Linked DNA regions of Homo sapiens: region 2 is reported to be linked to region 1. Evidence: microRNA targets listed by miRTarBase, many of them from high-throughput screens and not tested one by one. Region 1 holds a microRNA gene; the other region holds the end of a gene's coding sequence.

Evidence for each region. Region 1 holds the annotated microRNA hsa-miR-7112-5p (ACGGGCAGGGCAGUGCACCCUG, at 3,924-3,945, opposite strand). A microRNA usually pairs through its seed, bases 2 to 8, with sites in the 3' UTR of a target mRNA and lowers its output. Matches are read on the target gene's strand: a 7mer-m8 pairs with bases 2 to 8, a 7mer-A1 pairs with bases 2 to 7 and ends in A, and an 8mer does both.
Region 2: the mRNA of PLXNA1 is a reported target of hsa-miR-7112-5p. Seed matches in the 3' UTR shown: 7mer-m8 at 6,296-6,302.

The regions. Positions count from the first base shown.
Region 1 is chr8:144,258,793-144,265,906 of GRCh38, forward strand. MIR7112 (microRNA 7112) reads right to left here and starts at 3,945; the gene lies at 3,881-3,945. MROH1 (maestro heat like repeat family member 1) reads left to right here. Exons shown (of 44, transcript NM_032450.3): 36 at 1-122; 37 at 448-562; 38 at 1,119-1,265; 39 at 1,394-1,582; 40 at 1,885-2,040; 41 at 2,115-2,249; 42 at 2,322-2,424; 43 at 2,492-2,557; 44 at 2,863-3,134. The coding sequence ends at 2,948. BOP1 (BOP1 ribosomal biogenesis factor) reads right to left here. Exons shown (of 16, transcript NM_015201.5): 4 at 6,125-6,279; 5 at 5,922-6,039; 6 at 5,723-5,824; 7 at 5,433-5,645; 8 at 5,189-5,350; 9 at 5,039-5,119; 10 at 4,900-4,969; 11 at 4,686-4,818; 12 at 4,429-4,609; 13 at 4,061-4,349; 14 at 3,796-3,880; 15 at 3,604-3,711; 16 at 3,253-3,525. The coding sequence ends at 3,372.
Region 2 is chr3:127,033,325-127,040,438 of GRCh38, reverse strand. It overlaps PLXNA1 (plexin A1), which reads right to left. Exons shown (of 32, transcript NM_032242.4): 32 at 3,050-6,517. The coding sequence ends at 6,422. Among named protein-coding and RNA genes, the nearest start is that of PLXNA1, 54 kb to the right of the region's middle.

The DNA of each region.
Region 1 (7,114 bases):
CTGCGGTCCATGCTACTCCGCAGCGGCAGCGAGGATGTGGTACAGCGCATGGACCTGGAGGGAGGCTGGGAACTGCTCAGGACCTCGGCGGGGCATGAGGAGGGGGCCACCAGGTTGGCCAGGTGAGCGGGCCCAGCCCACTGCAGCTCCAGCACTGGCTGGGCTCCACCGGATCTCGAGCCCAGAACATGACAGGATCAGGCGGGGGCCCATGCGTGTCAGGCCAATGGTGCCCTGGGCTCCTGCCTGTTCACTCTCTGGGGCAGGGGTAGGGAGGCACCCCTGCAGAGGCCTGGCGAGGCAAGCTGGGAGGCATCTCTGAAACATAGAACTCCCAGAACCTGGCAGCTGGCGGTGGAGCGGACCAGGGCTGTGCAGGGTGGAAGGTGCCTGGGTAGGGTTCAGCACAGCAACAGCCCCTGCACCCTCAGCGGCCCCCTTTCCCAGGGCCATGGCTGAGCACGCAGGGCCCCGACTCCCCCTGGTGCTGAAGACGCTGGCATGCACACACAGCAGTGCGTATGAGAACCAGAGGGTGACCACCACCGCCTTCCTGGCCGAGGTAGGCCCTTCCAGGGACGGATGCTGGGCACCAAGGTGGGGCTCCTGCTCAGGACAGGCACGGGATGCCCTTTTCTTACCCCTAAAAGGCCCCCTCGACCGTGGTCTGTGAGGGAGGTTATGTGGATGCTAGCTACCTCCTCCCCCATGCCAGAACTCACTCAGTCCCACCCAGGGACACCCCCTCTGTGCCTGGTGAGAGGAGGACCGAGGCTCCCTGCAGCCTGTACTCTCCCCAAGTCCAGCTGGGTACATTTGTAGCTGGACAGGGCTGGCCCCTGGGACCCCAGGTGCCCTTGGTGGTGTGGTCTTGGCCTTCGTGGCCAAAGATGCCAAAATCTTGCCCAAGGCCGTGCAGCAGAGCACAGCGGGCGTCAGAGCAGGCCCCAGCGGCACAACAGGGAGGGGTCGCCACTGATCGGAGACCCAGGGAGTAGGTGCTCCACCTCTGTCTGCCACACCGGCGTGGGGACAGCCTCTGGTGTTCTGGGCCTGGGCTGGTGGGTTGAGCCCTGGGGTCAGCGGGGAGAGGGAAGTCACAGCACCTCTGCCTGCAGCTGCTGAACAGCAACGTGGCCAACGACCTCATGCTCTTGGACTCGCTGCTGGAGAGCCTGGCGGCTCGCCAGAAGGACACATGCGCCAGCGTGCGGAGGCTGGTGCTCCGCGGCCTGGCCAACCTGGCCTCCGGCTGCCCTGACAAGGTGGGGTGGCCACCAGCCCCTCTGGGTCCCAGGCAGCATGGGTGGGGGGCTGTGCATGGAGGCCACCCTGTCTTGTGGGGTAGCAGACGGTGACTCTGGGACCCAGGCTGAGTGTAAGGTATCCTCAGGTGCGAACCCACGGCCCCCAGCTCCTCACAGCCATGATTGGCGGGCTGGACGACGGGGACAACCCTCACAGCCCAGTGGCCCTGGAGGCCATGCTGGGCCTTGCGAGGCTGGTGCACCTGGTGGAGTCCTGGGACCTGCGCTCAGGGCTGCTGCACGTGGCCATCCGCATCCGGCCTTTCTTCGACAGTGTAGGCTGGTTGGGGCAGGGGGAGGGAAGAGGGCCCCAGCCCTTCCTGCCTCTTACTCTGAGCTTTAGCCCCAGCCCCACCCTCCTCCCTGTCTCCCACCTCGGCTAGGTGACCGTGGAGAGCGCGGACCTGCAGGGCTGCTGCTTTGCTGGGCCTGGCAGCCCCCACCCGTAAGGCCCCCACCCGTCGGGGTGTTTCCTGGCCCGGGTCAGGCAAGGGCACCCATCAATGGCAGGGGGCTAGGCAGGCAGGCCTGCAGGGGCACAGCCTGTGAGGAGACGTATGCTGCATGTCCTTCCCAGGAGAAGATGGAGTTCCGGACGGCATCTATCCGCCTCTTTGGGCACCTTAACAAGGTCTGCCACGGAGACTGTGAGGACGTCTTCCTGGACCAGGTGGTGGGCGGGCTGGCGCCCCTGCTGCTGCACCTGCAGGACCCTCAGGCCACCGTGGCCAGCGTGAGTAGCCAGGGGGTGAGTGGGATGGGGTGGGTGGCCTCAACTGGACTTGGCCCCAGTGCCGCATCCCTTAGGCCTGCAGGTTTGCCCTGCGCATGTGTGGCCCCAATCTGGCATGTGAGGAGCTCTCAGCTGCTTTCCAGAAACACCTGCAGGAGGGCCGAGCCCTGCACTTCGGGGAGTTCCTCAACACCACCTGCAAGCACCTGGTGAGGGGTGGGGCCAGGCGGGGCGTGGTGGGTGGGGCGGGGCCAGGCGGCACTGACCAGGCCTCTCCCCAGATGCACCATTTCCCAGACCTGCTGGGCCGTCTCCTGACCACCTGCCTGTTCTACTTCAAGAGCAGCTGGGAGAACGTCCGAGCTGCTGCACCCCTGTTCACCGGTAAGCACCACCCCCTGCCCCACCCCCACGCCGCCCGGCAGCCCCGCCTGATGCCCCCACTTCACAGGGTTCCTGGTGCTGCACTCGGAGCCCAGGCAGCAGCCGCAGGTGGACCTGGACCAGCTCATTGCGGGTGAGCACCCCTCCACGGGGCCCCTCCGCTGGGCCCTGCTGACCCTGTAGGCACCCGCAGGGACTAAGTGATTTTCCTGGATTTCAGGACTTTTTCCCTGTCACTGGTGACCTCATCGTCTCTAGTAATTCACGGAAACTTCTTAACTGTTCCAAAAGAGCTTAAAAAACACTAAAAAAGGAAAAACGATCTTTCCGTTGGCTCCTGAGCCTCCCAGCAGAGGCTGTCAGGAGAGCGTGGCCCACGCGCAGGCATGGGCATGCCGAGGTCACAGCCCGCAGGCAGCCCCCCTCCTCTACCCCCAGCGCTCCAGATCCTGCTGAAGGACCCGGCCCCCGAGGTGCGGACGAGGGCTGCTGAGGCCCTGGGCCGCCTGGTGAAGCTCGCCTAAGGCTCCGGCCAGCACCCCCAGCGAGGAGTATGCACCCAGACCTGTGCCTGAGCTCCAAGACAGGGCCTCCTGAGGACCACAGCCTGGGCACACGACTGGAGGGGCCTGGCCCCAGAACAGGCACTGCTGGGGACCAAACCCAAGCCCTTCAGTGAGGGATGTGCCCAATAAACTCATCTGCTCCCAGCGAGTGACTGACAGGGTGCGATGCTGAGCCTCTTAGGGGATGGGCCAGAGGGTGCCCTGGACTGGCTGTGTTGTCCCCACTGTTTTTGCAAAATTGAGTGAGGGGAAGGCTCGGCGCTGTGGTGGGGGCGGCTTTGTTGGCAACCCCAATTCAAGAAGGTGGGAGCACCAGGCAGCACAGGGTAAAGGCTCTGTTGACTTCAGCACGACCACCCCAGCCCCAGGCAGGCAGAACAGCTAGGTGAAGAGGCGGACAGTCCCGTCTGCCCCCGAGGAGAAGACCCACGGCTGGGTGGGGTGGAAGATGACGTCCAGCACTCCCAGATCTCGGGTCAGCACGTGTCCCTTCAGCACCTTGACGGGCACCAGCAAGGGGTTCTGCAGAAGGTCACTGTGGGGACGAGGAGGGCTCAGGGCACGGCCAGACACCACTGCCCTGGGGAGGGGGCCAGGCAGGGTCAGCACTCACTTGTACACCATGCCATGGCAGACGATGACACTGCCGTCGTCCGAGCCTGACGCAAAGAGTGGGTACCGCGGGTGGAAGGCCACAGCCCGCAGAGCCTTCTTGTGGTGTCTGGGGGGAGGGAACCAGGTTGAAGGCAGGCTCGGGCTGAAGGGAGGGGCTCTGCTGGCCGCCTCCACCCCCAGCTTTCCTCACCTCAGCATCCTGTATGGCTTGGTGGAAAGATCCAGGTCAAACCACACCAGCTTGCTATCGTAGCTCCCACAGATGACGTTGTCACCTAGGGCCAAAGGCTGTGATGCAGGTGTTCCCGCTCTCACCTGCAGGGTGCACTGCCCTGCCCGTCACCTACACCCCTCACCTGCAGGGTGCACTGCCCCTACCCCCACCCCTCACCTGCAGGGTACACCGCCCCCCCCCCCACCCCTCACCTGCAGGGTGCACCGCCCCCACCCCTCACCTGCAGGGTGCACCGCCAGGCTGGACACCCACTTGCAGTTGGGCATCAGCTTCTTGGTGAGCTCCTGGCGCAGCAGGTGGTAGAGGCGGACGCTGCGCTGGGACGCCACCAACAGGAAGGGCCGGGCAGGGTGGAAGGCCACTCGCTGCACCTGTCCGTGGCTGCGGCGGAACGGACTCTGGCTGCGGCGACGGCTCAGCTGGTGAATCAGCACCTGGGTGTGGCCTTGGGTGGCCAGCACCACGGCCAGGTAGTCCCCACGCCCGTGCCAGGTCACCTGCGTCACTGGCTGCAGGAGAGCAAGGCTGGCTGAGTGGCTGAGCCGGGCCCCTCCCGCTGCAGCCTCACCCCCAAGGCGCCCCACGTACCTTCCCGTGGCAGATGCGCAGCCGCAGGCCCACTTGGCGCTCCTCCTCTGAGGCCTCCAGCCAGCGGGCCGGCTGCAAGGGGGGCTCCTCAGGCGGGACGAAGGCGCTCAACAGCTGATCTGTGCTGCCCGCCACCAGCCGGTCCCCCAGAGCTGGGTTCAGCAGCAGCACCGAGTCCTCCCTGTGAGCCAGGCCCAGACACGGCCCCTAAGCACAGTGCCACCCCTGGCTCCCCAGCCCCCAGGGCCTCCACTTACACGGCTGCAGCCACCAGGCAGACAGCGGGGCTGGGGTTCCAGGCCACACTCTTCACCACGCCCCCCACGGGAACAGTCCTCACACAGCGGGCAGTGGCCACCTCCCAGAGCCGCAGGGAGCCGTCGTCAGAGCCTGGATGCGGCAGAGACAGCTCTCAACACCTGGCCATCCCACCTGCCCCCCAGCTCAAGGCTGCCCCCAGCTCGGACCCACCTGAAACCAGCCACTGGCCCCCAGGAGAGACACTGAGGCACCGGACAAGGTCACTGTGGCCCCTGTAGACCTGAGGAGGCGGCGGCAGTGAGGAGTCAGACTGGGAGGGTGCAACCCCAGCCCCCTAGTCTCCACTTACCAGGGCCTGGCACGTGGGGAAGGGCTGCAGGTCCCTCGGCCGAGGCAGCTTGGGGATGAGGTCCTCAGGGTCTACATTCACCTGGGGCAGGAGAGCGCCAGGTCAGCCTTGCCCCCTGTGCCACCCCCCTGGTGTGCCACCCCCACACACCCTCATCTTGCGCTGCCGTGGGCACAGGTACAGGTCAAGGCAGCGCTCGAAGCGTTCCTGGATGAAGCGTCCGTAGGCAGGCACGGCCCGCAGGCTCGGGAACTTGCGTGGCAAAAAGCTCAGCTTCCTCTCGCCTGGCTCCTGCTGTTCCCACGCCAAGCGCTGTGGAGACCAAGACACAGGGGTGGGGAGGGTCACAGGGAAGCATGGGGACAGGGTCCCGGCCCCCAGGATGCAGGCCCACCTCCTCCTCGCTGAGCAGGTATTCAGGGGGTGGGTTGTACGACTCGGCGTGGCCTGGCAGGGCCAGCTTGGGAGCAGGTACGTGCATCTTGTGGCGCCCGAGCACGGCGTTGGGGTCCTCCTGGGCCCACAGGTCATAGAAGCTGGGGGTGGGGTCTCGGGGCCGGCGAGGCTGGATCCAGCCCATCTTGATGGCGTGCACCATGCGAGAGACCTGCATAGACAGCCGGGTCAGGACGGGCAGTGCGGGGCGGTCAGCCCAGGCCAAGCCCCAGGGGCTGTGTGCCCCACCTTCTCCTTCTCCACCAGGGAGGGGATGAAGCTGCGCTTGTCGGCCGGGCGGTTGGTCACCGGGTGGATCATGACGTCCCCGCTGAAGAAGTCGACAGCCGGCTGGGGGAGAAGATGTGGGCGTGTGGGCCAGAGTGGCTGAGGCCCTGCTGGTGCCTCCAGGACCCCCGCCGCCCAGGGGCCAGCCCCTGCCACCTACCTCATAGGGGTTGAAGCCCACATCCCCAAACTGGCCACTCTGCAGCCGCCGCACCAGGGCCACCTGCTCATCCGTCAGTCTCAGGTCCCGCCCTGTCATCGGGTCCTGCACGGTGCGCCTGGAGACCGCCAGTCAGACCCCGCCAGCCCTGCCCCACCCCTCGGGCCCACCCCGGCTGCTGGCCCCACCCCACCAGCCCTCACCAGTAGTCAGGATCGTCCATCTTGTCCAGGAACTGGTCCAGCTCATCCCGGGTCCGCAGGGGCTTGTAGATGCGCCTGCCATCCAGGTCGTAGCCCACGTGGGGGAAGTCATCGTACCACTCCAAGGGCACGTTGCCCACCGTGTTCCGGATGTCCTGCAGCCGGGGGCCACCATGTCGGCATCTGATCCTACAAGGCCCACCCCCGCTTCGGGCCGCCCAGGGGAGCAGGTGAGGGGGTTGCAGGGGGAGTGCAGGCCCAGCCTCAAGTGCCCTGAGGTCACTGGCCCTGACCTACGCCTGTTCCCCAGCCCTGGGGTCTGACGTGGCATGGCGGCCACGCTGCCCCCACCCCCGCCCTCGGAGGCGCCGGAGCTGCACCTTCACATTTTCCACTGAAGTGGTGCCAACCCCAGAGCTCCCCCCTCACTGGATTCCTTGGCCAGGGCTCTGGGCAGCCACAGACAGGGATGACCTCATCACCCACGGGCTCCCTCCCCTGGCAGGGGCCTTAGGCAGAAGTGGGCAGCTATAAGACGGGGACTCGGGGAAGACCCCAACTGACCCATTCCACAGAGAGGCAGAAGCCAAGACCTCTCTGTGGGGGACCCCCCACCGTCTGCCCTCGGCCCCTCCCCAGGCAGAACAGCCACGTTCCTGGACGTACATTCCTGGTTGCAGCCCCTGCCAGCCGCCACCCTCGCTCCTTCCAGCCTGGGGACCGCTGCCCAGGAGGCTGCTTCCTGCAACAGTAGCCACGGGGAGGGGCCCAGGCAAGACAGAGCACAGCTGGGAGCCTGCCGGGCCCCCTGCTGCAGGAGGGACCCCTTGGGCCCTGCCCCCTGCTGAGGGTCCTTCCCTCTCCTCCCCATGGAGATAGGGGGCCATCCCCAAATTGGATAATGGGGGTATGTGTGTGCTTCCTGAGGGGCCTGGTGGCCCTGGAGAGGAACGGGGGAAGGAGGAAGGGGCAAGGAGACCGACGGGGTGA
Region 2 (7,114 bases), not on the chromosome of region 1:
TTTAGGCCAGAATGACTGGTTCAAATAGCAAATCAAGACATTGCCCCAAACATTGGCCAATGAAATCCCTACCTGGATGTGCGTGATGACCAAGGGTGTCCTGTTTTCACCAGGACTGCTCAGCTGGTAGACCTAGAGCCTCTGGTGGTCATCGCTGCCCCCCACTTAGGAAGAGCTGGCCTGAGAATGAAGCCCTTACAGAGGACAGAGAAGGAGGACAGACTTCTCATGACCTCCAGGAGCCCCTGGATCCAGCCATGCCTGAGGTAGATGCACCCTTGGACTTTTTGATTTCAAGAGCCTGCTAGTTCCCTTTCTTGCTTCAGCCAGCTTAAGTTTCTATCATTTCTAATGCAGGGGGGCACCCAGCAGGGAACATGTGCTCAGGTGCTTCTCAGGGTGGTTTTAGCCGGATGCAGCAACGATGGCTGGAACGCCCATCTCTCAAACAGACCCCACGCTGGGCAGAGTGCGTGAGTCTCCCAGCCATGGGGGCAGACTCAAGGGGCTGACGGCATCTACAAGGCGGCTACAGGGGAAATGCTCCTGAGAACATGCTTTCCTCAAAGTTCCCGAGGCCCCAGGGCATTGCTCACTGCCAGCTGCTCACGCCCCTCTGCTCTGTGTCCAGACTCTGGGTATCAGGCCCTGGTGTTGTCCTCAAGGAGTCTCCAGCATGGAGACCACTAGAGGAGTGCTGCAGCATGAAGTAGAGAGTCTGAGTTTGAATCCTGGTCCCACCATGGGTAACGGTGTGTCCTTGAGGGTAGTGACTTTACCTCTCTGCTCCCAGGTTCTCCCCTCTACAATGGGGCTGGTCCTGGTACTGACTTGCAGCCCGGCAGCCTTGTATGCTGCAGAAACCACTCCCCAGCATCCGTGTCCCATTCCCCAAAGGTCTATGGTGCACCTGCCTATGTGCCCAGTGCAGGCTGGCTGGAGGCTCTGCTCCAGGACTAGAGGCTCAGCCTGGATATGACCCAAGTCACTTCCACCGACAACTCCATGACTGTTGTCCTCAGAAAGAACACATCTGCCCCCAAAGCTCCACCATCAGGGCTGATGGCTCTCCAGGAAGGCCCCAAAGGGGTGCCACGGGCCACGGGCCCTGGGGATACCTGCAGGAGCCTCTTGGTCTCCAGCCTCCTCTGGCCTTGTCCCGCGACTGCCAGACGCGCGAATCAGAGCCCACCCTCCTCGCTCCCCAAGGCACAGCACCTCCTGCACCTCCCTGCACAGAGCTGACCTGGCCTCTTCCATTGCTCTGGACACAGGGAATGCTCTCTCCGATGTCACCTCAGCTGGCTCCTTGTTTCTCAAGCCTCGATTCCTCCATCCCTCCTCAGGCCTTCCCTGCCCACTTGGCCAGGTGGGCACCCTCCCATGCCACCAGTTTTCTTCAGGGCAAGACACCATCTATAGTCACTGTATCAGGTTTTAGCCTGGCCTGTTACTTTTTATTTCTGCTCAGAGCCTGTGTTTGCTCTTGAGCTGTGGCTGCTCTGGGGTCCAGGTGGGAAGTCTGAAGTCACCTCTGGATCTGCTCTGGGTGGAGGGTGCCTCCATCCCACCCAGGCCCACAGGCTGGCCTCGCCCTTGCTCTGCAGCAAGCCCATCCAGGTGCCCTGCTCAGAGCCACCAGCATTAATAGCTGATGGTTTAATACCCTCAGGAGCCAGCGCACTCAAGCAGCAATCAGAAGGCCCCATCACCGCTGCTGTGTAATTGCGCCCGATCACTCGCACAGCGAGCGCTGATTGCGGCTCAGAGATGGCTCAGCTTCCAGGCTGATGGGCTGGAGCCCTTGGAGGCCTAATGAGGGTAATTGAGGATGGGCTGATTGTGCCGGAAAAAAGCTGAAGGGGACTGAGCCATGAGAACAGGCTGCGTCACACCCTAAACGGGACCACATTTGCTAAATTTGTTTCCGACACAATTTCGTGGTGATTACACTGATTTCTCTTGAGTTACTGAGCCTGGCACAGAGCTTGTGCTTGCAGCCCCACTGTCAAGATGCGCCTGTTTGAGAGTGGGAGGTATTGTTGATGACTTATGGGCCACTGTCAGCCCTGGGAACGAGTTCATGGAGAGGCTGGTGGGAGACAGGTGGGAGCTTGGGGGCGGTGGGGAGGGCCTGGGGTCCCAAGGGCCTACGTTTGGGCGGGCTGCTGCTTACCACCATGTGGCTGGGACACATTGTGCAACCTCTGTGTGCCTCAATTCCTCAGCTGCAGGTGCAGCTGCCCCTAACCTCCCAGGGTTGCCGGGAAGTCCCAGTGAGTTCACTTACAGGCAGTGCTCAGACGGTCCAGGTTGGGGTCTGCCTGGAGGCGCAGCTGCAGAGCAGGTGCCCAGGGCCCTTGGGGATGTGTCACACCTGACCCTGCACCCACCCTCTGCGGCAGGAGCAGCCACCCCTGTTGAGCCATGGATGAAATGAGCCCAGGGACGGGGCCACTGACCAAAGCCATGCACTGGCAGAAGCTGCATCCACACCTCCATCATTAGTATCTGTACACATTTTCATGAGATGAAGCAGCATAGCCTGTCTCTGCTGGAAAGACCAACATTTCTCAAACCCGGTTCCTTGGCTGCGAGTCTGGGAAACACAATTCCAGCCTTGGCTACTGAAGGCAGGGGGCCCAGGACTGCAGCCTCAGCTCCCCCAGGCTGTCGCTCATGGGCCCCTCGGGGTCAGAATCTGATTTTAGTTAACAAGGCACCCAGGAATTCCTGCCTCACGGCATGGGCTGGAAGCCACTGCTCTGAGCTAGGGGTCACGGGAGAATCGCCTGGGAAGCATCTAAAAGTGACCACCGCTCAGACCCCTGAAGCTCCAAGGCTCCAGTGGGGGTCAGGCACTGGTGTTTTAGTCTCCGCCAAGGGCTCCAATGTGTCACCTGGGCTGAGCGCACCCAACTCACAGAGTGTGGCCATCTGTCCTGGGTGTGGCTGAGTCTCCCAGGGAGATATGCTTCCGTGTTTGGGATGTGGCTGCACTCCTGCGGCCGCCCCTGCTTCCCAGCAAGGAAAACCTGGAGCCAAGAGCTTTTAGCAAAAATGTTTAATCTCTCCTTAATGTGTGTGTTTATTTACAAGTACTAAATCTGAAGAACAGTAAAATAGGAAATAGCCGTATATGTACACATCTGAGGGCCGGGCCCACAGTCAGCGGTGCTGCTTCTGCAAAGAGCCCGGCTGAGGGTGCCCGCCCGGACCGTCCGAGGGATCGCTCTTCTTCTGGGAGGGGGTTCTGCGGTGTTAAAGGACAGCTAATTGTGGGCTTTGTCTTAAAAATATCTCTCTCTCTAAATATATCTATTCTAGCTGTGTAGCACCAACGTGAGCCACTGAATCCAGACAGGGAGAAAGCCAGGGCGGAGGCTCTCAGCAAGGCCGAGCCGAGATGGCACGCCGCTCCGGGCTCTCTCCCGGACTCGACGCTGCAGGTCGTGGGGCCCCCAGCCCCTCAGGCCAAGGGGCCAGTGGTCCTGGGGCTGGGGAGCACAGGGGAAGCTCGAGGTATATCAAGAGGCCAGGCTCCCAGGCCGAGGCGTGAGCTTTTCCAGCACTCCTGAGCCAGGCGCGGGGAGAGGGAGGACACGGAGCAGGGTAGGAGGTGCTGCAGGAAGCAAGTGGCGGCAGCAGCACGCCAGGTGGGTGCCAGTTTCACAGCACATGTGCCGCAGCCCTGGCTCCCTGCAGACACAGGGCCCATGGGAGCCGCTCACCGCTGCTGGGCACAGAACGGCCTCCAACTGCAGCTCCTACCAGGGCCTCCAGCCCCAGGCCAGAGCTCCCAGGTGCTGCACAGTTAGGAGCACAGTGGGAACCAGTGACAAGTAGGGACTGGGGCCTAACTCCACGACCTGGCAGAGGGAGGTACGGAGTAGCTCGGAGACTGCTGTCCCAGTAGACAGCACAGGTAGTCGGCTTGATCCTTGCGCATGTAAACAGATACTGCTAAAGTGCTTGCGCCTAGACACAGCCATGTGCTCTGTGGTGGCCACGCCCCAGCCACACGCCCATGTGGGAACTGCTTCATGAGGCCTGTGGTGCACCCCCTTCATCACCACTGCCGTCCCCACCACCCGCCCATGCTACTCACATGGACAAGGGCAGCCTGGCAGGGCAGAGCAGAGCACAAGGCCTAAGGAGAGTGGGGGTTGGAACTGGATTCTGAAGGTGATGCAGGAGCCCCTACCTAACCCGTGAGGAACTGGAAGAACCAGGGACTTCAACCTGAAGCCAGCATCCAGGGAAGACTTTGGGGGAAACTGAGGTTCCCACCCCACCATAGCCAGGAAACATCAGAAGGGAGGTGGAGGCGCACCCAGGAACAGGAATCCCAGCCAATGCTAGGGGCTACTGAAAAAAACAGCCCAGCCACTGTAATATGGACTGGCCTCAGCTCTGGCCCCCAAGACTGCCCAGGGAGTAAGCCCACCCCCTCAGTGGGCTGGGGGCAGGGGCTGGCCCAGGCCTGAGCTGGGTGTGGCAGCAGCAGAAGGCCCCAGCCCTGGCACAGTGCCCACGGGGCCAAGGAGCTCCCTGAGTCAGCAGTCACTGACTCCACACCGACCCGCGTTCAGGGAAGAGGCGGGTCTCTGTGGCGTCATCTGGCTCACGCTACTCAGCTGGGGCGGACTGCAAGACTGGCACACCCCATGGGGCCGAGTCCTCTCCTTGGGCCTGGCCAAGGACATGGGGCTGAGTCTGGCCACAGTTAGCTGTCCCTTAATGTCCATGGGATCTTCGGTACCATCAAAAAAGTGACCTTGAAAAGGGGATGGACCGCTTGTTTGCTTTTACAAGTGACTGATTAATTAAAAAACATAAAAAAGGGTCTAACAACCTCTAGTATTCAACACTTGCAGTTTTAAAAAGATCAACTCAGACTAAACGCTAGCACAATCATGCATGCCCCGTGGTGCCGCGGCACCCCAGAGGCTCTCAGGGTCAGCAGGAAGTCCTTTCCTTGTCATGTCAAACCAAAACAGCGGCCCGCAGGTCGGGGGGCACAGGCTTCAGGGCTGCTCCACTCCAGGGAGGCTCCGGCCACTTTCTCCACAACCATTTGGCATTGCTTTCCCACTGCCTTCATTTTCTTGTTCAAATCGTCTTTAAAATTCTTCTTCAGTTAACTGTACAGTACCCCACTGGGGCTGGAGCCTGAGGCTAGAGCCACATATATATATATGCATATATATACATGTACAGCTTTCTTTTAAGAATGCATTCTCTCTTGCTGAGGGCAAGGGTGGACACCGCTGGCCTCCAGTCCCTCTGGTCACTGCCCGTCACTCATGGCCCAGATAGATCCAGGCCACTGCGGGCCAGAGGAGCCCTGCCACAGACCTCAAGGCCCAAGCAGAGTGCAGCAGAATTTTTTCCCCTAAACACAAAAACAGTCCCCAGATGTCCCACTGCTCTGGAGGGGCCAGGACACTGCTGAGATGCCACACTGGAAGCCGCTGGGGCAGGGACAGAGAGAGTGGAGAGAGAGGAGTGCTCAGGGGCCGCCCTCAGGGGCTCCAGGGTGGGGAGCTCAGCCTACCCTTGAAGACAGCTGCCAGGGCAGCCTGTGTAGGACGCGGAGGGGAATAAATAACGGGAACGTGCTCTCTGCGACCCGGGGCCCCTGGCCCAGTGGCTCCCAGAGGCACAGCCCTGAGGACGGAGAGGGGCTGCCCGGTCCGTCTGGAAGCCACCCAGGAGTCTGAGCAGCCTGGCCCACAGCCCCTCCATAGGAGGGAGCAGAGCCTCTCTGGGGCGAGGTGGATGTGGTGCTCCGGCCTCGGCCGCGCAGAGCACGCGGTGAATCTGAGGATGGCAGCGGTGCAGCGGGCATGGGTGCTGGAGGTGGGAGTCGGTGGCAACGGGCCCAGACCGACTTGAGCTCCTCTTGCCCGGCTACGGGCTTTTTGCCTCTTTCTCCAGCTGCCAACCGGGCCCCGGGACCCTCAGACTCTGCCGCCTGGGGGCAGCTTGGAAAGCTGGGAATGCTGACACCCCCAGCCTCTTGTCCTGGTCTCAAGGGGACAGCCCAAGCTGGCTACCCCTCCCCCTGGAGGGCCCTGGCCTCACCCCTCAGCCCCTCAGAGGTCAGCCCTTCTCCCATGAAGGCCACTGGGCAGCTCTTGCCAGGCAATGAAGGTCCTTGGCCAGCCTGAGCACCCAGTGCTGTCCCGGCCCCTGAGCAAGCAGCTGTGTGCGCAGCTGTGGTGTGGCAGGTACCATCACCTCCACACAGGAAGAGCCGGGACCCGACCGGGTGAGGCAGGGGAGGGAGGGCCGGGCAGTCGCTGCACTGCGGCGGCCCGAGCACCACCGGACACTCCACACGCATGCGGTGAGGGCTGTCCCGGTCCCTGCTCAGCTGTCCTCACGCTGCATCATGCTGGATGATCACAGCTGGGGCTCAGCTGCTCAGGGCCATCGTGTCCACCACCTGCTCCAGCTTGCTCCGCAGCCGCTGCCGCCGCGCCTGCTCATCCTTCTCCAGGGCTGCCAGGATCTGCAGGGCCAGGAGAACTGTCAGCATGCCGGGCCACCAGCCTCCATGCACTCAGCAGGCCCAGGGCAGATGCCTCCAGAGTAGGTGCCAGAGGTTCAACCCCATCTACCCCTGGCCAAAGGACCTTGGTTGTGAGCCTGGACCCTCCAGGACCCCAATATGGAGAATGAGCCCTGCCCCTGTCATCATCCTACTCTCACCCCCTAAAACAGCAGGCTCTGATCCCTTGGCTGCCTGGCCATGCTGCTGACATGTCCCCACCCAGTCCTCACACCCTGGGGTTTCTGTGCCCCTTTAAAGCAGAGCTCCCCAGAGAGCCTCAGCTCCCCTTTCCCTGGTGAGCCCCAGGACCCCAGGCTTTTGTCCCCACTCCCCACCCTAATACATGCAGTCTCTGGCTGCTCCTCTGCTCCCCTGGGGCACCTGCCTGAGGACAGCCCTCTGCCTCCTGTCTGCCTCCTGTGGCACCCTGGGGAAGGTTCCTTGCCTCTGCTGCACCTGCCCTGGCCTCCCCAGGGTGGCTCTGGTTCACTCCCGTGGCCTTCTTAGCCCTCAGAGCCTTGGCACAGGCCGAGACTGTCCTGCCCTCTGGCCCCG